Linked DNA regions of Homo sapiens. The protein of the gene in region 1 interacts with the protein of each later gene in a pairwise test. Each region holds a gene or a part of one and is shown on either strand. Other genes may lie near its edges.

The links.
Region 2: the proteins of MTURN (region 1) and PLEKHB2 interact in binary tests that used the Homo sapiens proteins (3 or more experiments, as listed by UniProt).
Region 3: the proteins of MTURN (region 1) and ARRDC1 interact in binary tests that used the Homo sapiens proteins (3 or more experiments, as listed by UniProt).
Region 4: the proteins of MTURN (region 1) and SUSD6 interact in binary tests that used the Homo sapiens proteins (3 or more experiments, as listed by UniProt).

The regions. Positions count from the first base shown.
Region 1 is NC_000007.14:30,144,717-30,152,012, forward strand, and holds part of MTURN (maturin), read left to right. Parts: intron 1-1,460; coding exon 1,461-1,583; intron 1,584-7,296. UniProt on the Homo sapiens protein: Promotes megakaryocyte differentiation by enhancing ERK and JNK signaling as well as up-regulating RUNX1 and FLI1 expression. Represses NF-kappa-B transcriptional activity by inhibiting phosphorylation of RELA at 'Ser-536'.
Region 2 is NC_000002.12:131,100,383-131,108,626, forward strand, and holds the start of PLEKHB2 (pleckstrin homology domain-containing family B member 2), read left to right. Parts: upstream 1-4,953; 5' UTR 4,954-5,016; intron 5,017-8,244. UniProt on the Homo sapiens protein: Involved in retrograde transport of recycling endosomes.
Region 3 is NC_000009.12:137,600,828-137,608,913, reverse strand, and holds the start of ARRDC1 (arrestin domain-containing protein 1), read right to left. Parts: upstream 3,229-8,086; 5' UTR 3,197-3,228; coding exon 3,079-3,196; intron 1-3,078. UniProt on the Homo sapiens protein: Functions as an adapter recruiting ubiquitin-protein ligases to their specific substrates. Through an ubiquitination-dependent mechanism plays for instance a role in the incorporation of SLC11A2 into extracellular vesicles.
Region 4 is NC_000014.9:69,698,483-69,705,778, forward strand, and holds part of SUSD6 (sushi domain-containing protein 6 precursor), read left to right. Parts: intron 1-4,912; coding exon 4,913-5,110; intron 5,111-6,121; coding exon 6,122-6,260; intron 6,261-7,296. UniProt on the Homo sapiens protein: May play a role in growth-suppressive activity and cell death. May be involved in the production of chemokine molecules in umbilical vein endothelial cells (HUVECs) cultured in THP1 monocyte LPS-induced medium. Plays a role in preventing tumor onset.

The DNA.
Region 1 (7,296 bases):
TCTGAGCAGTATTTTAAGTCTGTAGGTCTAGTTCTCAGAAACCCTGCAATGAGAAGAAAGGAGAGGAAATGTGTTTATTGAGTGATAGGGATATGGGGCCAGTGTGTGCTTGGCATGGACCATGTCTCCACATAAGTCTTCTATCCTGCTATCTGGCCGCTGCATCTTGTTCTTATCTGCCAGATGTCTTTCTTTCTCCCAGACCTCAATACTTTTTTTTTTTTTTTTTTTTTTTTGCCAGTGTTTAGCCATCCTGGATCCGTCCCCACTAAAGAGTGATTCTTGGTACCTGACAGATACTCTGATGTTACCCTGGAAGCCCCGTGTCCCTGACTTGCTTAGATATGCAGGGCAGGGTATTCTGCATTAAGAATGCTCAAACCTATTTCTTGGCCTTGTTCCAGGTCTTTGAACATTTATGAGAGAGGCTTGCCTAGTCTTAAAGATGTGCTAAAATGGATATCCTCACATGGAAAAAAGCCTTACCCAGTCTTCAGAAAAAATAAAACCTAGACTGGGCATGGTGGCTCACGCCTGTAGTCCCAGCAATTTGGGAGGCTGAGGCAGGTGGATCGAGACCAGCCTGGGCAACATGGCGAAACCCTGTCTCTACCAAAAATACAAAGAATTAGTCAGGTGTGGTGGTGCGCACCTGTAGTTCCACCTACTTGGGTGGCCAAGATGGGAGGGTCACTTGAATCTGGCAGGAAGAGGTTGCAGTGAGTTAAGATCATGCCACTGCACTCCAGCCTGGGCAACAGAGCAAAACCCTGTCTGAAAAAGAAAAAGAAAAAGAAACAAAAAATCTAAAACCGATCTCCTCTTAGTATGTGTTAGATTGTGAAATGATGCTTCGGTATGATGTCCTTTTAAAGCATTTTAGGGAAGGGAAGTTTTCAGAAAGCCTTTGTTTTCCAGTGACATAGTGGTGACTTGGTGGGTTCTCTTAAGTTATTTGCATTTGGAAGTAAATTTACCACCACGCCTACTCACAGGCCGATCTGGGTAAAGAATGTCTTGTTCCAAGTTAATGCTTACAAACTATGCTTAATTAATCTTTCAGCCGTAGCTGAAAGCAAAGTTAAGGATTTTGAAGGCAAAGGCTCTGGTTTCTCCTTCCCCATGTCTGAAAACCGCCCTTAGCCTGCACAAGGTGAACAGTGGAAATCATTGGTGAGGAATGGCCACCCACTGCCCTCTTTACTGTGTAGGAGCAGATCTGATGATGAACAGAGCAGGTGAGGTATGGACCAAAAGCTCGGGGGCTTCTATAGATTAGACATTTTTTCTTCCCTTTCAACGCAAACAAATCAAGAACGCATGTATGAATTTTACTGTAGAATGGAGGCCTTCTTCAAATTGATGTTATTAAGAAAATCTGCTTGGCTTTTCTGAACTTCACACTGAGTGTAGTGACTGTGTGTCTTTGTTTTCTCCTTCCGTCGCCCGTGGGCACGCAGCACGTGTGGAGTGAGAGCGAGGACTGCCTGCCTTTCTTGCAGCTAGCACAGGATTACATCTCCTCCTGCGGCAAGAAGACGCTCCACGAAGTCCTGGAAAAAGTCTTCAAGTCTTTCAGACCTGTAGGTGCCTGCTTGGCTTCTCACCACAGCTTGTTTTCTATGGTGATTGTGTTTAGAATAACAGGGGCGGTGGGGAAGGTGGGCAAAACCTGGGATGACTAATTGTTTTTCTCTTGTCTGTCCTGTGGCTTAGAGATAGCAGCCAGTATAGGGAGGCCGAGGGCGGGAGGAGGGGGACGGGATGTGACACAGCTGTTTGCTGCAGGGATGATGGTTATTTCTAGCATCACTTGAGTTGAGAATCCCTGATGGGGGGGGAAGCAAACAGATCCTTTATGAGACAACTGAGTGTTCCTGTTCTCCTCTAGGAGACTTGGAACCATGGCACTTGCAAGCCCAATGGAGGTTCTTTTATAATAGTGGGGCGTATATTTGGGGATTGCTGGGAAGCTGTATACAGGTTATATTAATACCTCCACGTTTGTGGGTATGGAAAAGGATGAAACTGGATACTGGCTCTATTCTTTTCTATTTTTAAAAAGTCTCTGTTATGAGCTACTGTTGCTTTGTTTTCCCCTTTTGGGATTTAGGAATGTGTATTTCTGTGGCTAGCTGACAGTCTGTTTTCATTCTAGCTGATAAACCTTTAAAATGAATGCTCACTTCTATTTTGAAGATTACCTACTTCCCTTTATCTTCATTGGAAGATAAAGTCCCATCACCAGTGTCTCAGTGTTTCCCCTAAGTTCGATTCCCTGCCCACTGTAAATACTGCACATGTTCAGTGGTATTTGCTAGAATTTCTATTTATTTTTCAAATCTGTTCTAATGCTGTCTCCTTCTCTGCTGCGTTTTTCAAGCTTGTCTTCTGTTTCTTTGAACATAGTAAGCTTGGTTGCATAGTAGACTATGTCTGATGATATTTCATTTTGTAAGTCTGTTTGGTCTTCTTTTGTTTCTGCTAGTTCTCAAACCTGGTATCTTGTTTCTCTGTGTGTGGGATTATCTTTGTGTGCTAGTTATTGTATTTGAAAGTTTACATGTAGGAATAAAGTGAGGCCTGAGATGACAGTACCTTACTCCAGAGAGGATTTCTGTTTGCTTCCGTCAGGACTTGGGGGCCTATTAGTCTGAGACACCTTAGCACAGTTTAAGTCTTGTGGTTCTCTGATGGCTCCCGGGGGTGAGAAGGCAGGATGCGGGTCTGGCCTCCTGTGCCTCCTCCTCGTTCTGAGGGTGTGGGCCTCTGGGGGCCCAGCTTCAAGTGGGGATGGTGTATAGTCTGCTCCTTTGGAAAACTGTTAGAGTAGCCTGAGAAAGCAGTGAAGTTTCTAGCTGCTGCTTCCAGGTCAGCAAATGCCCCCAGGATAAAAGCAGCTTTTTATGTTTGGCTTACCCTCTCCTGGTTAATATTTTATATTTAAGAAGGTATTTTTCATATTTAATTCAGCTTTTTTTAGTCATTCTCAATGAAAGAGTTGGACCCAGTCACTTTGTGCACCATTGTAAGAAATGAGATTTCAGTGGCTTTTGTCACTCTGATTTGCTTAAGCAAATGACAGAAATCAAATAGAGTGACAAAAACCACTGAAATCCCTTTTTTGTTTGTTAATTTTCTAAGCCAGTTTGGCACATTCAAAATAGATACTTGACTTAAAAGTACCAGTCTGTCCCACATTCATTCATTCAATAAATATGTTTTGGGTACCCACTGGGTACATGGCACTGTGTACTGCATTGTTCCTGGCACTGGAACTAAAGCATGAGAAGCTTAGATCTCACAGAGCCTGTGCTCCAGTGGGGGGAGACAGGATAGACAAGGACACACGTAATGTCGTGAAATGATGCTAGTAATTAAGTGCCAAAGAGAAAGGAAAGAAATCAGGGAATGGGGTAAAAAGTGTCAGGGGTCCTGGAATTTTTGAGTAGGGAACCAGGGAAGGCTTTGCTGAGAAGGTAACATTTGAGGAAAAACTTAGACTACAGAGTGGGCCATGAGAAAATCTAGGGGAATAGCATTTTCAGTAGAGAGAGCAGCAGGTATGAAGGCCTCGGGGTTGGACAACACCTGTGTCCAGGGAGCAGGAGCGGCCAGTGTGGCTGAAGGAATTAGAGAGAGGTGAGCTGGAGGAATTCCAGGAGTCACAGAAGGACATGGGCTCTTACTCTGGAGTGATGGGGAGCCCCCCAAGGGGTTAGGCAGAAGAGGGATGTCACCTGACTTCACATCTTGAAAGCCTCCCTCTGATGACTGTGTTGAGAACAGGCTGTGTTAGGGGAGGGACAGAGAGGCCATTGAGGCCATTGCTGTCATCCAGGTGAGAGATAGTGGTGGCCTGGACTGGGACGGTCACGGCAGAGGCGGGGTGAGGGGTTGGATTCTGGAGATACCTTGAGAGTAGACCCAGCTGGACTTGCTGGTGGATCAGAAGTGGGATGTGGGAAAAAGGGAGAGAAGGCTGACCCTGAGTTTCTTGCCCAAGCAGTGAAGGGAATGGCCTAGTCATTTACTGAGATGGGGAAGGCTGCGGGGGCGGGTGGTGGGGAGTTTGGGGTTGGTAATGTCAGAGCTCAGTTTTGGACATGTCAGTGTTTTAAATGCCTGTTAGACATCGAAGAAGGGAGATCACATTAGGCAAAATTAAAAAGAAATGGATTCCTGTAAATTTTAACCAGAAGAATACCCGTTAGCAACTGAGGTTCGCTTTGCAGCAGGTTTCCTCACAGGGGCTCACTCATTGACCTGCCGCCAGCTGGTCTCTGTGGGTGTCGTCTGTGGTGGCAGGCAGCCTCCCCTCCCTGCAGAACTGGCTCACCTGGGAAGGGGAGCTCCAGCCGGGAGTCACTGTGCTGTTTTTCCTTACCGAGGCTCTGGTTGTATTTTGGCAACCAGGCTAGCCACGTTAAATGAGGAAACAAATGCGGTCCAAAAGAAATCCGGATGTGCAGCTGAAAGCAGTTGGATTGGTTGAGGAAGTTCTTTCAGGTGGCGCTGAGATGTGTCACGTGGGCCCACAGCTTTGGTGTGCTGTTGCTGGGCTTCCAGGTTTCCTTTCTGAAGTGGAACTTTACCTTGTGGGCAGGGATGTGGCTCCCCAGGTGAGGAGGCCTTGACGTGGCACAGCATGCCCTTTGGTGAGGAGGTTTGTGGGCTGGGCCGCCCTCTGGCAGGGCCGGTTTACCCCTGAGGGCAAGGCTGGTGGGAGGCACCTTCCCGGACTGGTAAAGATGAAGTGCTGAAGGCCTCAAGTTTCTCCCAGTCAGGATGCGCCCCAGACTGAATGAGAGGGAGCGTCACAAACCCGAATAAAGGACCACAGAGATCCCTGGAGAAACTTTGACACTCTCCACCTCCACCAAATAGAGCACTGCTTCCCAATGGCACCATTTATCTGTTTGTTTTACGTAAGGGAGGTTTGTTACAGATAAGACATAGGTAGGGGTTTTGTTGCTGTCATCACAGTTGAACGTATTTGTTGAAACGCTTACCCAAATGCTACAGGTTATCAAGTGGGTAAAACCAGCACATCATTTCCCTGAAAATACATGGGAATCTGATCAATCCATGCAGCTGCTTTTTTGTTTATCGTGGGCCAGCCCCAGGAGGAGTGTTTTTACCTTCATCTTAGAGCAGTCCCCTGCTCTGCCTACTGCACTCTACTGGTTCTTGGGAGAGCTATTTCTGTGAGCATGTTCTGCAGGGGGTTGCTTGTCATCTCTTAACCCAATTATGAGGGAACAGGTACTACAGTCATGAAGAACCCAAGGTCTGTTGTCAGGCTACCCGGATTTAAGTCTCAGTTCTACCACTTGCTGGCTGTGTGACCTTAGACAAGTTACTTAACCTCTCTGTTTCTCAGTTCATTTGTAAAATTAGAAAATTAATGATGATAGTTCCCTTAGGGTTGCAGTGAAGATTAATGGAGTTTTTGTTGGGTACTCAGTGCAGTGCGTTATCCACGGTAGGCACTAAGTCAATGTTAGTATGATGTGGATAGGATGAGGATACTAGACAAAATACTGTGGAGAAGTGAGCAGGTTACCGTTGGGGGGAACCTTAGATTATTGGTGGAGAGAGAAAACAATTTGCTAAGTGATTTCAACATGAAAAGGCATTAGAAGGGTAAGTCAAAAGTTTATCAACATTGGTTTTGGTAAAATTACAAGCATTCACTGAGTACCTGATCCACACGACTCACTGTGCTAGAGGCTAGGACTCCATAGAGGACCAGTGGATGCACCTGTCCTCCCAGAGGGGCACGTGGCCAAAGCGCTCAGGGTTATGGATGATTTTTTATTTTCTTCTTTTCCACATTTTCTAAGTTTTCTATGATCACATTATCAGAAAATATATTTTTTAATGAAACTGTGGCTTCCAGCGTATTCGAAGGGCTAGGAGTATCAGTGTGAGCAGGCTCATTGAGGAACAAAGCCAGGCAGTGGCTTCATGAGGAGGTGGGACTGAAGAATAGCCGGACCTAGACGTGCTCAGAGCAGGGGCAGGGCTGGCCCAGGAGGAAGTCCAGGAAGCGTCCATCTTGGCTGCCTCAGCTCCGTTTCCTTAGAAATGGCTCCATGTGGTGGAAGGTAGATCGGCTCTGCCCTGTTTTGCTCCCATGCTGTGTGGCCTCTAACAGGTACACTTGGCCTCAGTGTCCCCAGCTTTAAAATGGGGGCAATACTGATTTAGCTGTCTTGTGGATTCATGGGGAACTTTGAAGTCAGACTGAGAACCCAAAGGATTGTCAAAACCCAGACACTCTGCTAAATTTAGTCTCAGTTTCTGGCTCCTAACAGGTATTAGGAAATGTTTATTGGATGGGTAAATGACTGTGGATGCAGCCGGCCACCTTCCCTCGAGTGACCCACATTCTACTCCACTCCAGTGACCTCCTACTTGCTAATGTTGATTGCTCAGAGAGGTATGATTTTTACCTATTTTTTCTTGCTACTGGCATGTCGTATCCAAATGGCACATGTATGCACATGACAATGCCAGGCAGGCTGTTGTTGGCATCCACGAGCAGGTACTGCTACTTGTAGTGGTTTCAGAAACCCCCATCAATCACTTTGGTAAGTGTGAGTTGGATAATCGTCAGAACCTTGCATTTTTCTTAAGTGACCCTCCATTGACAGTTGCTGGTCATACACGATTGAGCTGGAGAATGAAACAATGGTTACGGACCTAAATAATGGTGATCATGCCGTTCAGTTTTCCCCACCATCTTTTCATGTTTTATATTTAGTGTCAACTGACAGACTTACTGCTGGGTAGAAAACAGTTTACAAGAGAAGAAATAGCCTACTATTTCCAATTTAGCAGTGAAACTAGACTTTATCTTTGCCCTTTCGAATTCTCTCAAAGTGTTATGGGCTTAACAAGGAACTATTGCTTCCTCGAGTGTGTTCTTCTCCTTACCAACGCTGTGGACATTAGGGTCCTGAGTCCCCTATTGCTCTTGCAGTTTTTTGTGCTGTTTGGTTGTTGTTGCTTCCATGGCCCGGCCTGGAGTTGGGTCCTGTGGTCCTTGTAGATTCTCACTCAGTTGGCCCAAGTCCTCTCCTGGGCTTGCTGTGTGACTCTGCGTTTCTTCTCTCAAGAAAGAGACATTTCTGCCAGAAAAATCCCCCTAATTCTGGTTCACTGGCATAAGCAAGATTGATATTTTCAGTTTGCCACAAGTGGCTGGAGAGCTGCGGCTTAAATCCCACAGGAAAATCCTGTGTCCCAGAAAAAGTCCAATTCTTGCCTCTACTCATGGAGTCTGGTCAA
Region 2 (8,244 bases), on another chromosome or scaffold:
TGCAAGGCTGCCTGTACCACAGCTGTGCCCCTTTTTATTTCTCCATTCTTGTGTACATGGGCAGCTTCCTGTTTATAGTGGGCAAAACCCCAACTACTATCCTCAAAAGAAATGGATTCCACTGTCTTTGGCCGGGCGTGGTGGCTCATGCCTGTAATTCCAGCACTTTGGGAGGCCGGGGCAGGCGGATCACCTGAGGTTGGGAGTTCGAGACCAGCCTGACCAACCTGGAGAAACCCCGTCTCTACTAAAAATACAAAATTAGTCGGGTGTCGTGGTGGGTGCTTGTAGTATCAGCTGCTTGGGAGGCCGAGGCAGGAGAATCGCTTGAACCTGGGAGGCGGAGGTTGTGGTGAGCCAAGATCGAGCCATTGCACTCCAGCCTGGGCAACAAGAGTGAAACTCCGTCTCAAAAAAATAAAAAAAAGAAAGAAAGAAATGGATTCCACTGTCTGAAGAAAGCCATGGCTTCTTAGTAGATGTTGAGGGCAAAATGAAGTAAAATTTAGGCATGCAAAAACTCATTGTTTCCCACCCCAAAAAGCAGTTACAAAGTTTCCGTATAGGAGAAGCAAAGGTGCAGCCAGCATGCTGGAACGGCTTCCTGCGCTGCACTCTGCATTGCTTGCCCCTGCTCTTCTCCCTAGTGCTGTGTGTCTGTTTGGGATGGACCTGGGTGTTGGTAAACATTGTGGGGCAGCTGAAATCCTACTGTTCCACCCTGGCTACTTTTATACATATAAAAAATTTCGGCCGGGCGCTGTGGCTCACGCCTGTAATCACAGCAATTTGGGAGGCTGAGGCGGGCGGATCACGAGGTCAGGAGATGGAGACCATCCTGGCTAACATGGTGAAACTCCGTCTCTACTAAAAATACAAAAAATTAGCCGGGCGTGGTGGCGGGTGCCTGTAGTCCCAGCTACTTGGGAGGCTGAGGCAGGAGAATGGCGTGATCCTGGGAGGTGGGGCTTGCAGTGAGCCGAGATCCCGCCACTGCCCTCCAGCCTGGGCGACAGAGCGAGACTCCGTCTCAAAAAAAAAAAAAAAAAACACAAAGAAAGAAAAAGTAAAGGAAGAGTGCCTGTTATCTCCTATTCCTTGGAAGCTCCACATTCCCAATTATGTGGGGTGTAGCAGGGGAGACATGGTATTTTACTTCATGTTCTATTTGGAGTTTTTTTTTTAAATTTACTTATGTTTTTGTATATTTTGTTTTACTATGTTGTCCAGGTTGGTCTTGAACTTTTGGCCTCAAGTGATCCTCCTGCCTCGGCCTTCCAAATGTTGGGATTTCAGGTGTGAGCTAATGTGCCTGGCCTGGAATTTCTTTTTTAACCACCAGAACTTCTCACTTTATTTTCTTCAATAAAGAAACGCATACTAGTAACTGGGCAAGAAATGGAGTGGGGCTTAGCAGCAGGTAATTTGGTTTGAGCCAGTTGAGGGCCACAGAGACAGGTGACTGATGGGTACAGAGTCCCAATGCAACTCTTTGAACTCTTGGACTTCTCCCTCTCAGTTTCAGACAAGAGGCTGCACATTCAGATAGGGGGCTGGAAAGCAGGCGTCCTCACCTGCACCCAGCCTTCTTTCCCCTGGCCTCTTCTCAATAAACATGAACAGGAAGCCAGTTTTTCTTTTCTTTCTTTTTTTTTTTTTTTTTTCTGAGTTGGAGTTTCACTCAGTCGCCCAGGCTGGAGTGCAGTGGCACAATCTCAGCTCACTGCAACCTCCGCCTCCTGGGTTCAAGCTATTCTCCTGCCTCAGCCTCCCAAGTAGCTGGGATTACAGGTGCCCGCCACCACGCCTGGCTAATTATTTTGTATTTTTAGTAGAGATGGGGTTTCACCACGTTGGCCAGGCTGGTCTCGAACTCTGGACCTCGAGCGATCTGCATGCCTCGACCTCCCAAAGTGCTAGGATTACAGGCGTGAGCCACCACGCCCAGCCCAGAAAGCCAGTTTTACTGAATCAGAAAACTTGTTATGGGACACTCCCTCCTCCAGGTACTGGAACGCCTACTTAAACTGAACTTTATTAAAATATTACTTTTTTTTTGTCTGGGTGCAGTGGCTTACGCCTGTAATCCCAGCATTTTGGGAGGCCGAGGCAGGTGGATCACGAGGTCGGGAGTTTGAGACCAGCCTGGCCAACATGATGAAACCCTGTCTCTACTAAAAATACAAAATAAATAGCTGGGTGTGGGGGCGCACACCTGTATTCCCAGCTACTCAGGAGGCTGAGGCAGAATAATTGCTTGAACCCAGGAGGCGGAGGTTGCAGTGAGCCTAGATGGTGCCACTGTCCACCAGCCTGGGTGACAGTGAGACTCCATCTCAAAAAAAAAATTATTATTATTTTGAGGCAGGGTCTCATTCTTTTGCTCAACCTGGAGTGCAGTGACACAATCATGGCTCACTGCACCCTTGACCTCCCGGATTCTAGTGAAGCTTCCCTCTCAGCCTCTCAAGTAGCTGGGACTACAGATGCATGCCACCATGCCAGTCTAATTTTTTTATTTTTATTTTTTTGTAGAGAAAGTGTCCCACTGTGTTGCCCAAGCTGGTCTTGAACTCCTGGGCTCAAGTAATTCTCCTGTCTTGGCCTCCCAAAGTGCTGGGATTATAGACGTGAGCCATCACACCCAGCCTTAAATATTACTTTTTCCTGTTGTTGAAGTGATACATATTCATGAAAGAAAACTTGGAAAATGCAGAAAAGTAGAAAAAAGAAATGTCATCCACAGTCCCATCACTCAGAGAGAATGTGTTAGTGTATTTTTGGATACTCCAAACTCAGACCCTGAAAGGTCCCTAAGACTGACCCTGAAGGTGGTCAGGGCTAGTATAGCCTTAATGAGGGCTGGTCAAGAAGCTTGTTGATGTCAGGCAATTTACCCGAGCTCATCCAGAAGCAGCGGAACCAGGAAGAACCCCATGTCACACAAATCTCTGAACTCTTGTGTTGACTAAGCTATAATATCTTGCAAAAGATGGGATTGCAGGCATCATAGGACTCCCTACCCTGCATTTTTTAAATTTTCCCCAGAGAGGAGCTGGGTTAAGACAGGGGCCCTGATTGGCAGAGTTTGGGGTTTTGAAGACCAATAATAATAGGGCTCTTCCAATATTTTTTTTAAGAGTTTTTCCCTTTTAAATTTAGATATAATTTATACACAGAAAAATGTACAAATCTTTTTTTTTTTTTTTTTTTTTTTTAGATGGAGTCTCTCTGTCGCCTAGGCTGGAGTGCAGTGGCGTGATCTCGGCTCAGTGCAACGTCTGCCTCCCGGGTTCACACCATTTTCCTGCCTCAGCCTCCCAAGTAGCTGGGACTACCGGCGCCCGCCACCACGCCTGGCTAATTTTTGTATTTTTAGTCTCTGAGTATCTGGGATTACAAGCGCACCACCAGGCCTGACTAATTTTTTTTTGTATTTTTAGTATGGACGGTGTTTCACCACGTTGGTCAGGCTGGTCTCAAACTCCTGACCTCGTGATCTGCCTGCCTCGGCCTCCCAAAGTGCTGGGATTACAGGCGTGAGCCACTGTGCCCGGCCAAAAATGTACAAATGTTAAGTATAGTGTTCAGCTTGATAAAGTTTTACTTACACACACGTACCCACCACTCAGATCAATGTATAGAACATTTTCAGCACCCTAGGAGTGGGGTTGCCAGGAGGCTCTCTCAAGCCTCTTTCCAGGCAGTACCCCTACACCACCCCCCAACCCCTGCTAGGCTGGAACGCAGTGGCTTGATTGCAGGTCAAACTTCTGGGCTCAAGCAATCCTCCTGCCTCTGGCTCGCAAAGCTCTGGGATTACTGGCATGAACCATCTCACCTGGCTAACATTTATTTTCCCTCTATTGTCTTCAGAAAACCCCCAACTTTTCATCTGGAATAATTTTAGACTACAAAAAAGTTATAAAGCTAGTATACCCTTCACACAATTTCTCCTAATGTTAACATCTTACATAACCATTATACATTTCTTATAACTAAAAACTACTATTACCTAAACTTAAATTTTATTTTAAGTTTATAGCCTAGCTACATCACCATGTTGCATATGACAGTGTCTCAGTTTTTTTCTTGCTTTTGATTACCTTGATAGTTTGAGGAGTACTGGTGAGGTGTTTTGAGGAATATCCCACAAACGAGATTTGTCTGATGTTTATCTTTCAGTTAGACTGAGGTCACGGTTTTTTTTTTAATCACATGTCAAGGGCAAGTGCAGTGACTAATCACTTTGATTTTCACGTGGAGTGGCTCTACAGCCCTCTTTCCACACTGTACTCTTGGAAAGGTCGTCCCCAGGCATAGGCCACACTCAGGGTGGGTGTGGACGGATTACCACACCCCTCTGGATGAGGTATTATTAGAATTCCTCTGCAAGGAAGATTATCCCTTCTCCCTCATTTATTTAATCACGTATTTATAGCAGCACGGGCTCTGGGCTGTTTTATACTTTAGGTTATAACTTAATGCAATGTACTTTATATTGCTGCTCAAATTGTCCCAGGCGCGGCCCCCGGAAGCTCTCTGGGTAGATCCCTGCGCCCTTGGACGCCCGGTCCTTCAGTTTTTTGAGCACCTCAAGCTTCTGGCCTACAAAACGCTCCCGGCTCAGCTGGAGCTTTCTGCGCCCGGGTCCTAGAGTCGCCCATTTCTCTAAGGCGCCTTGGCCCTATTTTTAGAGAGCGGTATTTAGAAACCAAGATTAGGGTGCTAACAATTTTTTTTTAAATTTTTATATTTTTAAGACAGGATCTCACTTTGTAACACTTCCTTTTAGTGGAAGCGCCGACCTCCTGGGAGACCCACGCCCCCTGCCGCCTTCCGTCCCGTTTCTCAGAAAACCACCCAGACACCCCGCCCCACCGGCCGGGGCCCGCCGCGCATGCGCGCCGAGGCGTGACGTCAGAACGGCGGCCAGGACGCCGGACGTGCGGCAGTTGCAGGCGAGCAGGCGAGGAATCGCCGTGGCGTCTTGGTGTTCTCCACGCTGGTTCGCAGGTGAGTGTCCCTGTTTAGTCCGGACGACCCTAGCTCCTTTCCCCTCTGGCCCGCGCCTCTCCAGATTCTCCTCTAGAGCTGCCCAGCCTCGCGCCCCTCTGAGGGGACCCCGCACCGCGCCACCTCCGCGGTGTCCCCACTCCCTAATTTTCCCTGAGGCTCCTGGCCACGGGTCCGCCCACCTCCCTGGACCACCCTGACCTTCCCCAGGTCCGCCCTCTCAGTCTCCCCTAGAGCAGCCCATTCGAGAGCCCTCCCAGTGGGCCCCCCCGGCCTCTCAGACCCCTTCCCATCGCTTCCCCGGCGTCCGCCTCCGGTCCTTTCCCCGAGCCCCTCCTCTCCGGCCCCGCGGACCCTCCTCCTTTCCCGACTGCAGCCTCCGCCTTGCATCCTTTCTGGCCGCTCGGGAGTGTCCCACATGTCTGACTGCCGGGACCTGCTGCGGCCCGCCGCCTGGGGTCTCCCGGCGTCCGATCTCTACCCCTGCTGCTCCCTCTGCTCCAGGGAACTTGCCTTCTCAGTTCTCCTGCCCAGAGGTCTCCCCTCCTTAAGTCCCGGGGGGCGTTGAGGCTTTACCCTCGCGGTGCGGTCCGCCCCCGCTGCATTTCACCTGCTCTTGGCCTTGCAATGTCTTTAGTCATAAGTGCTTGGTGTACCTTATCTTACATATCTCTCTTCATGTTTGATTCTGTTACTCAACTAGATTGAAAACTCCGGAGGTCAGGGATTTGCATAGGGATCCCCGCCCCGCCACCCCGCTTAAATCTCAAATGTAGACCGGTTCAGGGTGGGTGGAGGAAAGGAATGAGGTGGAGTGGTCACTGTAAAAAATTAAAGGAACATGGTTAATTCAAAATAATACTGACTCATGGTCTCAGCCTTTAAATTTTTAGTGCTTAGGAAAGGGTGGAACCACCACCGAGGGAGGAGGGCTGACAGCTGAGGGGAGGAATATTCCAAGGTCTTCTGTGGCCTTTGGTATGAACCAGTACCAATTCAGGAAGTGACTTGTCCGAAGTCACATGAGGAATTAGGACCCGAGCTGGCACTGGTAACTGCCTGTTTAGTGTGGCCCTCAGTATTTGTTGACTAAACTAATGACCAAAACATGTATGCACAGACACAGCTGTGCGTCTGTGCCCATGCAGTGGGTGTGTCTGCCTAAGGACCTGTGGGGGTGTGGGAATACTGCTGTGACGGTTCAATTGTGGTGCTCAGGAGTGTTCCCTAGGTTCAGAAAGTTCCTAACCCTGGGCTGGTTGGCTGGATATTGATAGGACTGGAGCTTGTCTGGGCTTCCTTTGTGCCTGGTGTTTACTCTCTGTGGTGGTGATCTCTTTACTCGACTCTTCCCTATTCGTACTGATCTCCCTGAGGACAGGAATCAAACTGTGTTGCAGGGTTTCCCTAATAAACAGCATAGTGTTTGGCACTTTGTAGGTGGTCAGTAAATGCTTATTGAAGAAGGCTGCAGAAAAGAACTCAGAACCTGACAGCGGTTCTTTGCTAGCATTATATTTTAAAGGCGGTGGTACATTCTGTAAGTAAATTTCCTGCTATTCTCAAGGACTGAGTTGATTAAATGTGTACAGCAGTGGTATAGAGAGGACAGATACTCTTGTGGTGTTACTCCTTGGGAAGGTGGAGGTTTCTCTCAGCTCTTTCTGAAAGCTTTGCTTATGCTTTTCAGCTTGCATTAATATTTTTGTTTCTCCTTTCCTCTGCCTGCCTTCTTACTGTTTGTCTAAAGAAATTAAAGAATTACCTTATTAATAACAGTAACTACCAAAAACTGCAAAACACACTGTTAAAAATGCTCCCAAAGTGGGGGCTAATTGACCCAGTTGTTTTGTTAGTTATATATTTGCTTCCACAGTGGATCATGGAAACGGAAAGTTGGACTTCCTTGCCTCTTTGCTTTCTTTGCCTGTCTGCCCTTTGATGGTGCTTGTATTAGGCTTGTTGTTAAGAAGTGGTTCCCAACTGGAAATGGCCAATGCCACGTGGGAACTGACCTCTACATGTTGATGGGTCACCCAACCTTCTTTCCCTTCTGTTTCAGAATGTACCTGTGACATCTCTTTGACTCTCCACTGTTGCCCTTGAAGAACAGAGATGAGTTTTCTTCCTTTTTCATAAGGAAGCCACTTTTATAGCGAAAGAGAGCTGGAGAACTGGGATATCATGAGGAGTTGTAGACAGTTAAACCTGAATTCTAGCTTTTGGAACAAAATAGTAATGTAATTGTAGCAGTTCTCACTTTTTTATTTTTTATTTTTTTGAGACGGAGTTTCACTCCTGTTGCTTAGGCTGGAGTGCGATGGCGCAGTCTCGGCTCACTGCAACCTCCGCTTCCCGGGTTCAAGGGAGTCCCCTGCCTCTGCCCCCCAAATAGCTGGGATTACAGGCGTGCGCCACCATGCTCGGCTAATTTTTTGTATTTTTAATAGAGATGGGGTTTCACTATGTTGGTCAGGCTGGTCTCGAACTCCTGACCTCAGGTGATCCGCCTGCCTTGGCCTCCCAAAGTGTTGGGATTATAGGCGTGAGCCAACGCGCCTGGCCAATTCTCACTTTTGGACCATCTACTACAGGGCTGTTTGGACATACCTCCTTTAATTGTCACAGTAACCCCATGACGTAATTGGTTGTGCCTGGTCATACAGGTAAGAAAACTGAGGCTTAGAGAGGTTTAGAATTTTGCTGAAGGTCATACTAGTGAGTAGAAGGCAAAGTAGGCTTCAGGCTTAGAACTGTCAGATTCCAAAGGCAGTATTTTTTGTCCATCTGTTGTCTGTTTCGATTCAATGCTTTCAAAGAGATACAAATTCAAATTTAAAATAATTTAAATTGTTGAATATGGCTTACATTTTAAAGCTTTGCATAGGTTTTATTGGCATAAAAATAATGTTCTTTTGCAGCTAGTTTGCTGGTGTTTTATTCTCTAGAGACCAACAGCTAGGGCTTAGTGTTTATCTGATGAGTTTTAGTTTATGCATTCAGTTTTGCTCCAGGATATAAATAGTGAAATGTTGAATTAAGTTATGGAGTGGTGTGAAATTCAGCATGCTAAGGCAATCAAACAGAAGTCTTCTGAGCCATTTGAGAAGCAGCTTGATGTCCTTGTTCTTAGAACAGGGCTGTCCAATCTTTAGACTTTCTTGGGCCACATTGGAAGAAGGCCATACATAAAATACACTAACCCTAATGATAGCTGATGCACTAAAA
Region 3 (8,086 bases), on another chromosome or scaffold:
TTTTGCACATACACCAAGGCTCTTTGAGATGACTCTGCCAGAGTAAGCAGCCTCCAACCACTGTCCAAAGTGAAACCTGTCCCGAGCTGCCCCACACACTCCTCAGTAAGAACACGGGAGGCAAGGGGCTCCCGCACAGCTGCCAGCTGCTTCCCTGCCAAAACACCTGGAGCTGCTCCTCTGCCTCTCAGCAACTGCTTCAGGTCAGGCTGGGTGAATTTCCCAGGGAGCCCGTTTTCACTGGCCAGGCCAATGGCAGCGGCCATGTTTCTGCCTTTTCAAATCATCGAATCAGGCAGGACCACAGGATGCAGTTCTGCCCACGGAGAAGCCAGAGCAATACATGGGGTCCATTGTGAGGGGTCTCCCTGCTGCTGGCGGCATACGACCCCGCTCCCTCTTCTTTCCAGCTTGCAGACTGCTTGTGATGGCAGAACACGCTGAAGGGAACCGAGCCTTTCGCAACAGGAAAGCCACCAGGCAGGGCTTGGCTGCAGGACTGAGTGGCTCAGTGGCAGTCCCCTAGTCAGAGTGTGACTTCTTCCGCCTTCTGGACTTGAACGTTGCACCTCTTTGCAGGGGCCCTGCAAGCCCTGTCCCTCCTCCCCCATGCAGGTTTAAAAAATGTTTCCTGGCCAGGCACGGTGGCTCACGCCTGTAATCCCAGCACTTTGGGAGGCCGAGGCGGGCGGATCACGAGGTCAGGAGATCCAGACCCTCCTGGCTAACACGGTGAAACCCCGTCTCTACTAAAAATACACAAATTAGCCGGGTGTGGTGGCGGGCGCCTGTAGTCCCAGCTCTTAAGGAGGCTGAGGCAGGAGAATGGCGTGAACCGGGGAGGCGGAGCTTGCAGTGAGCCGAGATCGCGCCGGCACACTCCAGCCTGGGCGACAGAGGGAGACTCCGTCTCGAAAAAATAAATTAAAAAAATAAAAATAAAAAATGTTTCCTGTGTTCAGATGCACAAGCAAGGACAAGCTGCTGGAGGCTGCAGGCCTCTCTGACTCTAAGGAAGATCATGACTGGGCTGCGTTCTCAAGTGACCACTGGAACTTTCTTCTCCAGCTGGGGCTCCCACCTGTTCAGCAGCCCCTCCCTTGCACCACCTGCACTTGGACCATGAAGACCCACCCACTCCTCATCCTCATCCCAAAGGACTCACGCCTGCCACAGAAGCTGTGACCTGTAAGCCACTCCCCCAGTCCTGTTTCCAAATCTGTATCATGAGAGTAACAACCGTGCCACTTGCCAGGGCGCTGAGGGTTAACTGAGGCTGGCCCGTGGCACGTGGAGAGAATTGCATCGGGCCCACCATGAGTGCTCCGAGAACCACTGTCGGCCCTGGTCGCCCATCCCAGTAACAGCAGAACAAGAAGTGGTCCTGCCTGAACCCCAGCCCTGGACTGGGCCAGCCTGAGCTCCAGAAAACTGCTCCCTCCCAGGCCTCCCTCCGCGTCAGCCCTTTAGACAGCCGGTGTCCTCACGGCTGGGTGCTGACTGTCACCGACACTCATCGGCAGAGTAAGTGAGCAAGCTCTGGGGCCCAGGCAGGGCTGCTGTCCTCCTGGGGGCTGAGGGCCTCCCTACTGGCTCCTAGCAGGATTGACAAGCATCCTCTGAATGAGGAAAAGAAACCATGGTCCTTCTGTTCCCATCCCAGGCAGGGCTGGGGGAAACCCCCGGGGGCCCCGGTACACCCTCCCACCTCACTTGCAGCAGCCTGAATCATGTGCTCTCTGGCCCATCAGGGCCCATCTCCTACTCCTTAGCTCACGACCCTCCTTTTTCTCCCTCATTCAGACCAGCCTCTGTGAGGTAGGACCATCAGCCAGTGCTCCCTCGGCTCTTGGGCCAGCTGCCCAAAGTGCTGGGATTACAGGCGTGAGCATTCAACCCACCCACCACGTCCACCCGGAGGCCAGGGGAGCCTGCACACCCAGGCCAGTCACGCACCGCGGGGCCGTCCCTTCCCTGTGGTAAGCAATGGCCTGCTCACCCCAGGCCACGCCAGGGGAAGGACGACAGGGTCCTGCACAGCCCTCAACCAGGATCCAGCCGGCCTCACCACACACCACACCTGTACCCAAGAGATGTGTGTGCTATCTCTGCCCTGCCACGGCCACACCTGCCCCCACCCAGACCCCAAACTCAAGGTTGGGACAGAGGAAGGGAGGCTGTGGGGTCATCCCAGGAGGCCCAGTGGGGCCAGGAGCCTGACAGAAGCACCTACCACCCGGCTTCTTCCGAGGCCCCACAGCCTCAGGCGGTGCAGGGTCAGGGCCACAGCACCATCACCTGTCCCAGGAGGCTGAGAGGACAGAACAGAGACTGTGGGTTCTCAGCAGGCACAAAATCGGTGCTGTTACCCACGCGCGGGCCCAGCGGTCAAGGTCCAGCGGCAAGTCCAGGGGCTGTGGCACAGGCCAAGCAGCCCAGGTGGTTCCCACAGGAGGCCAAGGTAGAGAAGTCCCCGGCAGGGACGCGGCACTCACAGCCAAGGGCCGGGCAGAGGCAGCCTCACCTCGCGGGCCGGCCCTCACCTCCAGGGCGCCCTGCCAGCGGCCACTGCAGCAACCCGATACCCAGTCCCCGAGGCCCAGGCGTCCACCTCGGCGGGGGGCCGGCGAGGCCTGCTGGCGGGTGGCAGGGGGCGCAGGGAGCCGCAGCAGGTGTCTGCACCCCGCCGGGACCGCACGCCCGCGCCAGGAGCGGCTCTGCAGCGGGAGCGCCTGCGCCGGGAGCCAGGGTGCGGGAAGGAGCCCAGCAGGTGCGAGCGCGGACGGGGAGGGTCGCAGGCCTGCGTGCGCCCGCGCTCAGGGCGTCCTCCACAGTGGACCCGCTTCAGGCCCCGCCGGGACCCCGCCGCCCCTCGGCGAGAGGGCAGGAAGGGCAGACGCGGAAGGGCGGCGCCGCCCGGACCTCCCCGGCGCCGCCGAGCCCGCTTCCCAGCAGTCCCGGGCGGCGAAGACAGCGACTCCGCGGGCCCAACCCGGGGCCAGGCGACGGCAGCCGCTTCCGGGAGCCCTGGCCCCGCGCAGGTGCGGCCAAAGGCCCTCCCCGAGGACCCGCGCCCACCTCGGAACGGCAGCGGTGCCCCCAGGCGCACGCGCACGGTCCCAGCCAACGGCTCCCCGGGGCTGTAGACGACGCGGCCGTGGCTCAGGCTGATCTCGAAGAGCTGCACTCGCCCCATGCCGCGGCCTCACCGGCCAGCCGCGCAGCGACGCCCCCGCCCGCCGCCCGCGAGTCCCGGCTCCGAGGCCCGGCCCCGCCCCCTCCTATGCCCCGCCCCCATCCGTCCCAATCCCGGCCTCCACCCCCATCCGGCCCCTCCCAGGCCCTGCCCCGCCCCACGGCCCCGCCCAGCCCCCCGGCCGCCCCGTAGCCCGCGGACTGCCGCTCGGAGGCCCGGCCCAGCCCCTATTCCCCGCCCCATCCGTCCGTGTGGCCCCGCCCCCTCGTTATTCCCCGCCCCTCTGACAGCCTCCTCGCCCCGCCCCCGCCCTTCGCCCCTGCCTCGCCTTCCCAGCTCCGCCCCTGCCTCGGCCGCCCCACCCCTGCCCCGCCCCCCGGCCGCGCTCATCCATCCCCGGCCCTGGCCCTGTCCCGGCTGGGTAGGTGCTGCGCTGCGTCGGGCGCCGCTTAAGGGACTTGAGGCGCAAGCGTCCCGTGCGTCCCCCACGGAGGGAGTCACCGCCGCGTCTCCGTCGGGGGGCAGGGCTGGGGGCGGGGCCGAGGCGAGCTCTGAGACTGGGAAGGTCTCCCCGCTGCACTCTGCTGCGGGCAGAACCCACTCCTCCGCCCCCACCCTCCGCCCGTCCCGCCCAGGGGTCTCCCTCACCCCGAGTCGCGGAAAAACGTCACGGGGCCGCGCGGGCGTCCTGGGCGGGGATGCTCCGCCGCGTAGGACCTGCCCCGCCTCAACCCCCACCCCCGGCTCCTGCCCCGCACCCCCAACCTTCTCCGCACCTACCTCGCGTCCCAGCACCTGTCGCGCCCCTCCGGAACCTGCCCGCCCTCCCGCCTTCCCGGTACCTGCCTACCCCCGCAACTGTCCCGGCCCCCAACACCTGCATCGCCCAACCCCTTCCCCCCCCGCCCCCTGCCTTCCCCGCACCTGCCCGGAGTCCCAGCACCTGCCCCGCCCCCCGCTATCCCCCTCCTTGCTGGCCTGATGGGGTGTGGGCCCAAGGGAGCCACACTTGGGCGGAGGCCCTTGGGCAGGGGTCCGCAGCAGAAGGGTCGGGGGCCAGGTGGGGCGAGGACTTGGATCACTTGAAACCAGGAGGAACACACTCCCATTTATCTTTTTTAAAGGGTCCCTTTGTAGAGAGTGAGCCGCGGGGGGTGGGACTCAAATACCCAGGGGACCTAAGGCGGGAGAGACCGGTTGGGTAGTCCTGGAGAGGGAAGGCGTCGCTCGACAAGGACCAGCTCACCACGGAGTGGGTGTGCGGGCCCCAGTGCTGCGAGTTTTTCTAGGACAGCCGGTGAAGAGGGTGGCCTTCTCTGATGGGGAGGACGGACCTAGATACACATGGTTTGGGGGTGGGAGGGTCATCACATGCAGAGTCTGAGGTGCCACTGATCCCCAATGGACCAAGTACTTCCGTGCATGAGCCTGGGAGTCAAGCACTAAAATGTTGCCATCCCTAGTTGGTAGAAGGTAACAGGTCAGGGAGGAGGAGTCTGGCACCCCAGCAAAGAGAAAGGGGCTCACAGGCTGGAGGGGCCCCCGGGCCAGGCTGGGAGAGGCCCTGAAGCCCCAGGCCCAGCTCACTCCCTTAGGATTCCGATGTTTCCGGAGGTGGGTCTAACTGGCCATGCTCCAGACACTTTCCTGCCAAGGCTATGCACAGGCAGAATTCCCGAACAAGAGAGAAGGGTGCCATGGGATGGCAAGGATTGTGGACAGCCCTCCCGAATGGCAGTCGGCCATGCCAGAAGTCAGAAAGAAGGTGTTTCACCGGGCGCGGTGGCTCGCACCTCTAATCCCAGCACTTTGGGAGGCCGAGGTGGACGGATCACGAGGTCAGGAGATCGAGTCCATCCTGGCTAACATGGTGAAACCCCGTCTCTACTAAAAATACAAAAAGAAAAAAAAAAATTAGCCGGGCGTGGTGACAGGCGCCGTGGTCCCAGCTACTTGGGAGGCTGAGGCAGGAGAATGGCGTGAATCCAGGAGGCGGAGCTTGCAGTGAGCCAAGATCACGCCACTGCACTCCAGCCTGGGCAACAGAGTGAGACTCCATTTCAAAAAAAAAAAACAGAAAAAGAAAAAAAAGAAAGTGTTTCAAGCAAGGGACAGACAGACTGTATTGCAAGCTACTGAGATGGAAGACAATGGACACAGAACACAGGTGGCCTTTATCCCAGGTCAGCCACAATCTAAGCCCCACAGGACTCTGCACATCCTTGATTCTGACCCTATCTCCCACCCATCCTGTGTTCCAGAAACCACCACCAGCACCAACCGCCCTGTCATTAGACTCTTCTTCTCCAAGCATACTTCTAGCTGCACTCTCATGAAAACCTGGCTTCCCCTGGAGCTTTCGGGTGTAGAGATATCTTTTCGCAGGATCCCTCTACCTCTGGGTCTGTAGGTGGGGTTGGGGCCCTCCTGGCTCCTTCCTAACACTACCAGGCCATTCTCCACCCTGGGAGCTACCATGTGTAAGCTTCCTGGTCTCAGAATCACCAGCACCACCTTCGCTCTGGTCGGCATCTTCATTTCTTGGTGATTTTAGCTCCTAACTCACTGTCATTCCCTCCATCTCCAAGTGTGGAAACTCAGTGCTTCTGAATCCACACAGGCAATCCTTCCAGCCTCCTGCCCTATATCCTAAAAGTACCTGGGTTTTGTTTGAATCAGGTATAGTAAAGTGACAGACTAGAAGACAAGTGCCACAAAGGAAGGATTTAGTACTCGTGGTTCTCAGGAGGAGGGGCCCTGCCATGCCACGCAGGGCCAGAAGGGGAAGTACCAGGGTCAGGAGGAGCCAGGAGAGAGCATGACCCAGAGCCTTTTTTGTGTTTTCCTCAGGGTGAAAATGGACAAGGCAGGGTAGGTAAGTGTGAGCAAGTTTAGGATTAGATAGCTTGAATCATGTCAGCAGACTCTAGGTCACAGCAGGGGGCTCTAGCCGTCTGGTATCTGTCCCTGGGGGATGCAGGGCAGGAGAAATGCTGGCTTGGGGTGTGAGAGTCAGATCAGGAAGAGACTGGGGATATGGGCTCTGGATTGGTGTTTATAAAGTTGTTTGCTAGCTCTGGGGATTAGCCAGCCCTGGAAGGGGCAGCATCTCCCTGACTAGTAAAGCCCCCAAGATGTCAAAGCATAATAACATACAGAAAAGGAAAAGTGTGGGCCGGGCGCAATGGCTCTGCCTGTAATCCCAGTACATTGGGAGGCCGAGGTGGGCAGATCACCTGAGGTCAGGAGTTCAAGACCAGCCTGGTCAACATGGTGAAATCCCATCTCTACTAATAATACAAAAAAAATCAGCCGGGCATGGTGGTGGCACACGCCCGTAATCCCAGCTACTCGGGAGGCTGAGATAGGAGAATCGCTTGAACCCAGGAGGTGGAGGTTGCAGTGAGCCAAGATTGGGCCATTGCACTCCAGCCTGGGCGACAAGAGTGAAACTACATTTCAAAAAAAAAAAAAAAAAGGAAGGGAGGGAGGGAAAAGAAAAGTGTGGTAAACACGTGTCAGTCTCATGGTTCCTCCTCCAAAACCCTCCTCTACCTCAGCAGTCTCCTTCCTAGGGCGTGGTGGTCCCTCCTCAAAGATCCCGCCCACCTTTGCATCCCTGCTGCTCTTCCCACCGGGGGGCTTCCCCTGGAACCTAGGCTGGCCCACAGCTTGCGTTAACTGGAAGAATTGCAATGAAACAGGCTGGGCGCAGTGGTCCATGCCTGTAATCCCAGCACTTTGGGAGGCCGAGGCGGGCAGATCGCTTGAGATCAGGAGATCAAGACCAGCCTGGCCAACATGGTGAAACCTCATCTCTACTAAAAATACAAAAATTAGCCAGGCGTGGTGGCACGTGCCTGTAATCCCAGCTACTCAGGAGGCTGTGGCAGGAGAATCACTTGAGCTCGGCGGGGGAGGTTGCAGTGAGCTGAGATCACGCCACTGCACTCCAGCCTGGGTGACAGAGTGAGACTTCATCTCAAAATCAAACAAAACAAAAACAGTCAAGGCTGGGTGTAGTGGCTCACATCTGTAATCCCAGCACTTTGGGAGGCTGAGGCGGGTGGATCACAAGGTCAAGAGATCGAGACCATCCTAGCCAACATGGAGAAACTTCACCTCTATTAAAAATACAAAAATTAGGCCGGGTGTGGTGGCTCACGCCTGTAATCCCAGCACTTTGGGAGGCCGAGGCGGGTGGATCACAAGGTCAGGAGATCGAGACCATCCTGGCTGACATGGTAAAACCCCATCTCGACTGAAAATACAAAAAATTAGCCGGGCGTGGTGGCGGGTGCCTGTAGTCCCAGCTACTCGGGAGGCTGAGGCAGCAGAATGGTGTGAACCCGGGAGGCGGAGCTGGCAGTGAGCCGAGATCGCGCCACTGCACTCCAGCCTGGGTGACAGAGCAAGACTCCATCTCAAAAAAAAAAAAAAAAAAAAAAAAAAAAAAAATATATATATATATATATATATATATATATATATATATATATATATATATAAATTAGCTGGGCGTGGTGGCACGTGCCTGTAGTCCCAGCTACTCGGGAGGCTGAGGCAGGAGAATTGCTTGAACCCGGGAGGTGGAGGTCGCAGTGAACCAAGATTGCGCCACTGCACTCCAGCCTAGTGACAGAGCGAGACTCCATCTCAAAACAAACAACACAAACAAAAAAAGAAAGTCATAGGAGCAACACACATTCACGTGGAGGGGAGAATTTGATGGTGACAATTGACACAACCTACCACCCTAGCCAACAACAGCAGAACCAACCAGCTAAGCCCATCCTAAACTACAGAATCATGAGAAAATACATAGTTGTTTAAAGCCACTAAGTTTTGGGGTGGTTTATTATTATTATTATTATTATTATTATTATTATT
Region 4 (7,296 bases), on another chromosome or scaffold:
GTTTGTTAAATTGAATGCTTTGACCCCTGGGGCCTTTCCTGGAGCTTATTTTGCTTTGCTTGTTTTGGAATGTTGTAAAAGTTTGTTTTGTTTTAATTTGCCTCCTTCTGAAAGGTTGGCCTGCAAAACCAACAAAACCAGGGAACCTTTAGAAAGGCTGGTGAGGGTCCTCAGCAGTTAGTTTCTGCTGAGGGTGTCAGGCTGAGGCGACGGAGGTGGTGGAAGTATCAGCTAGATCATTTTGCGTCTCATCTGCATTGTTACCAGGGTGGACTTTGACTGAATGCCTACTGTGTGCACTCCCTGTGCTCACTGAAAGCCTATGTGGCTGTGGGACAGAATGGAAAGCAGAGAGGAAGCTAAAGATAATTCATTGATTTTTTTTCCCCCTGTAAAATTGTCTGGCTTTCTCCTTTTCTTTTTAAAATTATGTGGCACTGCCACATCAGGTGAGTTCATTGTCTTCCCAGAGTTAAGTACAGAGCTTCCTTCTGCGAACCTGGAATTGTCAGAGAATGATCCTGGTGCACAGATCAAGACAGTTTCTTGCCTAGACTGTGGCTTCTGGAAGCCACTGAACAATTTCTTTGCCATGTGGGTTTTGCCTTTTTTTAGTGTTCTTCCCAGGCATCACTGAGAGGGTCCTCTTCAACACCTGCTGTTGGCCAGGACTCTGCTCTTGGTCAAGAGGATCATATTTTTTCATGTGTTCTTTTTCTTTTCTTTTCTTTTCTTTTTTTAAACAGAGTCTCACTTTGTCGCCCAGGCTGGAGTGCAGTGGTGCAATCTCAGCTCACTGCAACCTCTGCCTCATGGGTTCAAGCAATTCTTGTGCCTCAGCCTCCTGAGTAGCTGGGTCTAGAGGTGTGCATCACCACACCTGGCTAATTTTTGTATTTGTAGTAGAGATGGGGATTCACCGTGTTGACCACGCTGGTCTCGAACTCCTGACCTCAAGTGATCCGCCCACCTTGACCTCCCAAAGCGCTGGGATTGTAGGCGTGAGCCACTGTACCCAGCCTTTTCACATGTTCTTAGTGTCTTAAAATGACTTGCCTTTTTTTTTTTTTTGGACCCTTTCTTCTTAGGCATCCTTATTTCTTCTTTGAACCTGGAGCATCTTATGACATACTTCAGCTTTTTTCTTTTCTATGACCTTCATAGATGGGCATAAAATAATTTTTGTACTGAGTTTATTTTGCCATACTGAAGCGGTGTTGTTGTCTGGGGTAATATCTGAGGTTCATTGTCCCACAGCCATGGAAAATTAGGATGCAGACACACCAGAGTGAGGTTAAGAGTGGAAGTTTAATAGGCGAAAGAGAAGAGCTCTCTGCACAGAGAGGGGTCCCAGAGAAAATGGGTTGCACTTCTGCAGTTAAATGAAGAAGGTTTTATAGATGAGCTTGAGGAGACCATTTACATAGGGGACGAAAGATTGGTTGGACCATGTGTGCCATTTGCATAGTTGTGAAATAGCTGGCCGTCCCACCCTAATCTTTTATTATGCAGATGGGTTCTCTACCTGGTGGGCACCATGTTGCCTGGTCCTTACTGTACACGTGGTGACAAAGAAAAGGGAACATGGAGCCTCCACTCTGAACACACCTGGCTTCCAGGTGGCCCTTTTCTATTGGCACAGCTGCTGGCATTCACCTGTGCAAGCTTCCAGCTTGCTTATCTATGCAGCTCGATTTTTCAGGCTGCTCTTTGTTAGAAAAGAAATGATTTTGAGGCTGCTTTTCCTTAAAAGGGAAACCTTGCTGAGGACTCTTTTGCCGTCACTATCTGCCTAAATAATTTCTTTCTAGCTCCTGTATCAATACTAGGATTGCTATAATGTTGACATAATCTAAGGGGTCTCTCCTACCTCTAGTCCATCTTATATCAAATTATAAATTTGCTTTTCTTATAATGCTACCCTTCTCAAGAACCTTCAGCGGCTCCCCCTTTTCTTTGACTATAATTATAAATATCTCCTTTTGTAAGGAAGGTCCTCTACAAGATGGTTTCATCACTCTTCATGTTATTTTTTTGGACTTTTAAAAAATTACTCAACCCAGCCAAACTGGGCTGCTTGCTGTTCTCAGAAGTTAACCTACATTTTCCCACTTCAGTGCATTTACTTCAAACTATGACCTCCCTTCCTGATGAAGTGAAGCCCCATCTGAAGTGCTACTTCCTCGGAGATCCTTTCCTAGGCTCCCCTATTCCTGCTTTGAACTTCCTCTCTTGTGGCACAAATCACATTATTTGACATGTGTTAGAATAAATTTGTATATAGAGTATCTTTGGAAGAATATGGTAGAAACTGGTGCAGTGACTCTGGAAAGAGGAACCCAGTGACGGGACACTGTGCACCCTTTTTGAATTTAATACCTTGTATATTTCCCATGAGTCTGTTTTTTTTGTTTTGTTTTGTTTTGTAAAAGTATTTTAGATAACAAAAACCTAATCCCTAAAGCATTACAAGAAAATACTGGAGAGTATGTTTATAAACTCAGAGTAGAGAAAGAGTCCTTAATCCAGAAGCCATAAAGAGAATGATTTTTTAAATATATGTGTGCACTTAATGGTCATATCCCTATTTGGCAAGAAGGACCTGAGGTGCTTATATTTTTGTCCTTTTTCAGAGCATAGCACAGTGACCCCCTACTCAGAATCAGTAAGTATTAGTTGAATTGAAATTAAACTGAATTACAAGTCACTTCTTTGCAGTCCTCACTTTTTTTTTTTTTTGACTTATTATGAGTGCTAGGTGACCGCCAGGATCCCGCTCAAAGATTCTGTGGAGATGTGGGTTTTATGGAAAGAGATACCCAGCAAAGCAGGAGTGGCTTTAGAATCAGCAGCTCTTCCCCTGAGACTGTCCTTCCCAGCACATTGGACTTGTGTGTGGGTCCTGCCTGCTTTCAGGAGCTGCCATGGGGTGCTCAGCATTAATTATGCCACGGAAATGAACCAATTAGACACAGTCCAAGGAGAGCCAGGGAGTAAGTCAGGGAGATCTGTGGCAGGCCTGCTGCCCTGAACAAAAGAGGGAAAGTGTAAAGGCTAAAGCAGTTTGCGGAGGTTTCTTTGGAAATCTAGCTGGCCAGCGCTCTGAACTACTTGGCCAAAGTTAAAGAGCACCAGAAGGAGTGTTTGCGTTTTTCTTTCTCCTGTTCAAGACTCTGGTGGTGGAGGAGAATAGGGACAAGTTGGGTCCTTAGAGGGGACTTGGGGGGAGCTTACTGGAGCTCATCTCCTAGTTTCAGAGAAGCTGCCAGACTTCTCTGGATCCCTGTGGCACCTACCCAGCTTTGTTTTGTTAATAGCTTTTTAAAAATGGCATCTTTTTTTTAGTGGCATCACCTAAAAAAAGAAAAGAAAAAGTGCCTTTTCTCCCCATCTCAAGTGATAAGCAAATTGAGGGTAGGGAGCCATCATCTCTTTTCCATTTGGTGTCCACTCCCCAACCTGGCTGGCAGTCAGCTTGCTTAACAGCCATTTGTAGATTGGAAAGAAGAGGCATGGGTGAGAGAGGCTGTGAGGGCACAGCTGCAGGGTGGTGTGGTCTGCCCCTCTCGTGGATGAGAAACTGCCTTATCTTGGACAGTCAGGCACTGTGGTGTGACTCTCAGTCACTCCAGGCCTGTCAGAGGAAATGAGAAAAAGAAAACGACCGTTCTTATTCTCATACAGATGTCCTTGTGATATTCAGGATGGGGGCAGGTTATTTGTCAGCAAAATTGAATTTCCTTTGGAAAACTTTTGGTCTTTATTGCATTCATGGTTGCCTGGCCATTCTACCTCAGCCCAACATTCCAAACAGTGATTCTGTAGTGCCCCCACTTTTACTGTTTTGGCTGGTAATACCCGGCAGTCCACCACCTGGGGTCTTCAGTTTTGCAGTGTCAGTCCAGAGTGGAATCAGAGGTTGTCCTTTTCCTCCTCAGGTCCACTCAGACCTTCCAGATCCTCTGACTTACCATTACTGCAACTTACCAGGGTTCCCACCATACCTAGGCACTGCCTGCCATCTCCCTAACTGACCAGTTTCAAGAGGGCAAAGGGGAGGTAACCTTGACACCCATACCCCTTAAAGGCCATGCAGCTCATGGGGTAGAAGCAATGTCTGCTGGTGGAAAGAGCAGAGGTTTAGAATCAGAAGATTTGACTGTGACCCCAAGCCTGCCATTTACCTTGCTGTAAGCTTGGCTAAAAGTCACTTAACTTTTGTGGCCCTCAGTGTCTTCTTCTTCAAAGGAGAGTAACGATAGCTGTCTCACAGAGTTGTCAGGACAAATAAGGCGGGAGGTGAAGGTGCTTTTGAAACTAGGCAGTCCTGTATATCAGTGGAAAATGTGGAATTTATCATGGGATAGAGACAGGTGGTGCCATTGACTACTATAGTCAGAGAATGGAAGATGCACAGGGGGTTTGGGAAGCCTCCCAGGGAATCTATCAGAAATCCCCTCTCAGGCCAAGAGTGCACGTTTTTATTATACAATAGAGTCTTTTCTGACATTGATAGTGGAAACAAGGCCAACATTTTTCCTCCTTTCACTGTGATTTATTATGTGTGTTACAGGCTTTATTACATAATACAGGCTTTATTAAAACTATTATGTCTAGATCTCTATAGGTTCAAGACTTTAGAGTCTGCCGTTCATTTATGGATGGAATTCTCTTAAGGCATGGTGGGGAGGGAGGGGGAAATGTTGCAAGCAGCCACTTCCCCTGTTGCCAGTATACTTCCCCTCTGTCAGTGGCAACCTGAGTTTCCAGGGTTTGGTTAACAGTTCCTCCAAGGAAAGGGTTATTTCCTCCTCCTGTGTTTCCTGTAGAGGCCTTCAGAGCTGCGTCACTGAGAGCAGACTCCTACTGGATACCTCACCACTGTACCCCTGCTCTCTCCCTGTCTTTGCAGTGTGCCCCCTACCACCGGAGCCAGAGAATGGTGGCTACATCTGCCACCCCCGGCCCTGCAGAGACCCCCTGACAGCAGGCAGTGTCATCGAATACCTGTGTGCTGAAGGCTACATGTTGAAGGGCGATTACAAATACCTGACGTGTAAGAATGGCGAGTGGAAACCAGCCATGGAGATTAGCTGCCGTCTCAACGAGGGTCAGTCTGGCAGATGAAAAAGGGATGCTGCTGGGGTTCTGCTTTCTGTTAACTCACAGGATGCAAAGCATGCTTCCTCCAGAGCACTCTTTGCTGTGGTGCAGCCCAGCCCCAGTTGATGCTCTGCAGCCTCCCTTCCTTGGGTCTTCATGTCTTTGTGGAAGATACTTGAGGTTGCTGGTGCATGTCCTATTGCATTTCATTGAGCCATCTGCCCTGCTCTGTAAAGCCCGTTTGATGTTCAGGATCTCTTGTTTGCATGGCCAAGTGTTGGTGACCCTTGACCATGTTCTGCCCTCACAGTGAGCACAATGCTAATACCTTCTCTAATGTATCGTCCATTTCATTTTTCCTTGAATGGAGCTACAGACCAGCTGGACAAAAGACCTCCCACCCTTACTGCTTCCTCCTGTCTTGCATGACAGGAAAATCCACCTGCTTGCAGGAAAGTGTGTCATATAACCATCTTTGTGCTTCCCACTCAGGCTTCAAGACCAGAGCATGTTTAACCCATGACACCCCAGAAATGGGTGGGAACCAACCTGAGAGTTACAATTAAAGCTGTGGATCTTAAGACAAGGTTTTATTACAGTCCAGTTTCTGTAAATTAATCCTGCCACTTGGGAAGAACATAGGTAGAACTTAAGATGGTGGAATGACATGCCCAGTTAAATTGTCGATGTTTACAAACTTCAAGCTTTTGAGGATGGGATCAAAGTGGTTTATAAAGGTAAAATCTCTAGGGTTAAGTGAGTTTATGTGTCAGATGGACCTCAAAGATTGGAAGTGAGGGGAATTTTTTATTCAGGAAACAGGATAGGGAAATGGTCCTTTTCCAAAAGAACTGTGTATACATAGGTCATTCTAAGCTGTTATTCCTGAAATGACCCTGACCGTAGGATGTCTGTATTGCACCATTCAGGAGGCATTTGACAAGATCAGCTGTGGGGCCCATCAGCTGTTTTGTGTATTTGGGTACAAAACCCTTCTGATGATGGCTTGTTTTTATAGATAAAGACACCCACACATCACTTGGGGTCCCCACGCTGTCTATAGTGGCTTCTACTGCCAGCTCCGTGGCGCTCATTCTCCTCCTCGTGGTGCTGTTTGTGCTGCTGCAGCCAAAGCTGAAGTCTTTCCATCATAGCAGGTGAGTCCAGTGGCAGAGCTGACATGAGACAGGCAGGTGCAAGCATTACTGTGGGGGCCAGTCTTTGGTGGAGGGTTGCTGGTGGCCCCAATCTCTGTGGGTCTGTGTGTGTCCAGGGAGTGGGGAGGGCCCTGCCATGTGTCAAACTCCTAGATGTGCCTACCATTGTGCTTATTGCTTTGCATACATTATCTTAATCCTCATAGGAACATTGCAGATGAGGAAATTGAGGCTCAGAGAGGTTATTCACTCAGGGTTATACCTCTAGATGACAACAGAGCTCAGAACTGAGGCTGCGCGCGGTGGCTCATGCCTGTAATCTCAGCACTTAGGGAGGCTGAGGTGGGCGGATTGCCTGAGGTCAGGAGTTTGAGACCAGCTTGACCAACATGGTGAAACCCTGTCTCTACTAAAAATACAAAACAATTAGCCGGGTGTGGTGGCGCGCGCCTGTAGTCCCAGCTACTCTGGAGGCTGAGGCAGGAGAATCACTTGAACCCACGAGGCAGAGGTTGCAGTGAGCCGAGATCACACCACTGCGCTCCAGTCTGGGAGACAGAGTAAGACTCTGTCCCATTAAAAAAAAAAAACAAAAAAAAACGGAAATCTGTTCAATTCCAAAGCCATGTCATTTCCCCTACACCAGTCGTTCTCAAAGCGTGGTTCCAGCAGCGTCAGGATCATGGAACTTGTTAGGATCAACCAAATGAGAAGCTCTAGGGGTGAGGCCCAGTGATATTGTTTAACAAGCTGTCCAGGTGATTTTGATGAACACTTAAGTTTGTGAGCCACTATCCTGCACTCCTGGTTCCCAGTCCCGGCTGCAATATAGAGGCACCTGGGGGAGTTTAAAAACAAATATCAACACTTGGGCCTCCATTCCCATTCTGATTTATTTGGTTTGGAATGGAACCCTGGCATTCACTTTTTATAAAAAGCTCAGTTTTTCTGTGCAACTAGGATTTAGAACCACTGCACCACACTAAGGAGAAACAAAGGAAGTGGATTTTCTTGCCTGCCTTTATCAGTTTCCTTT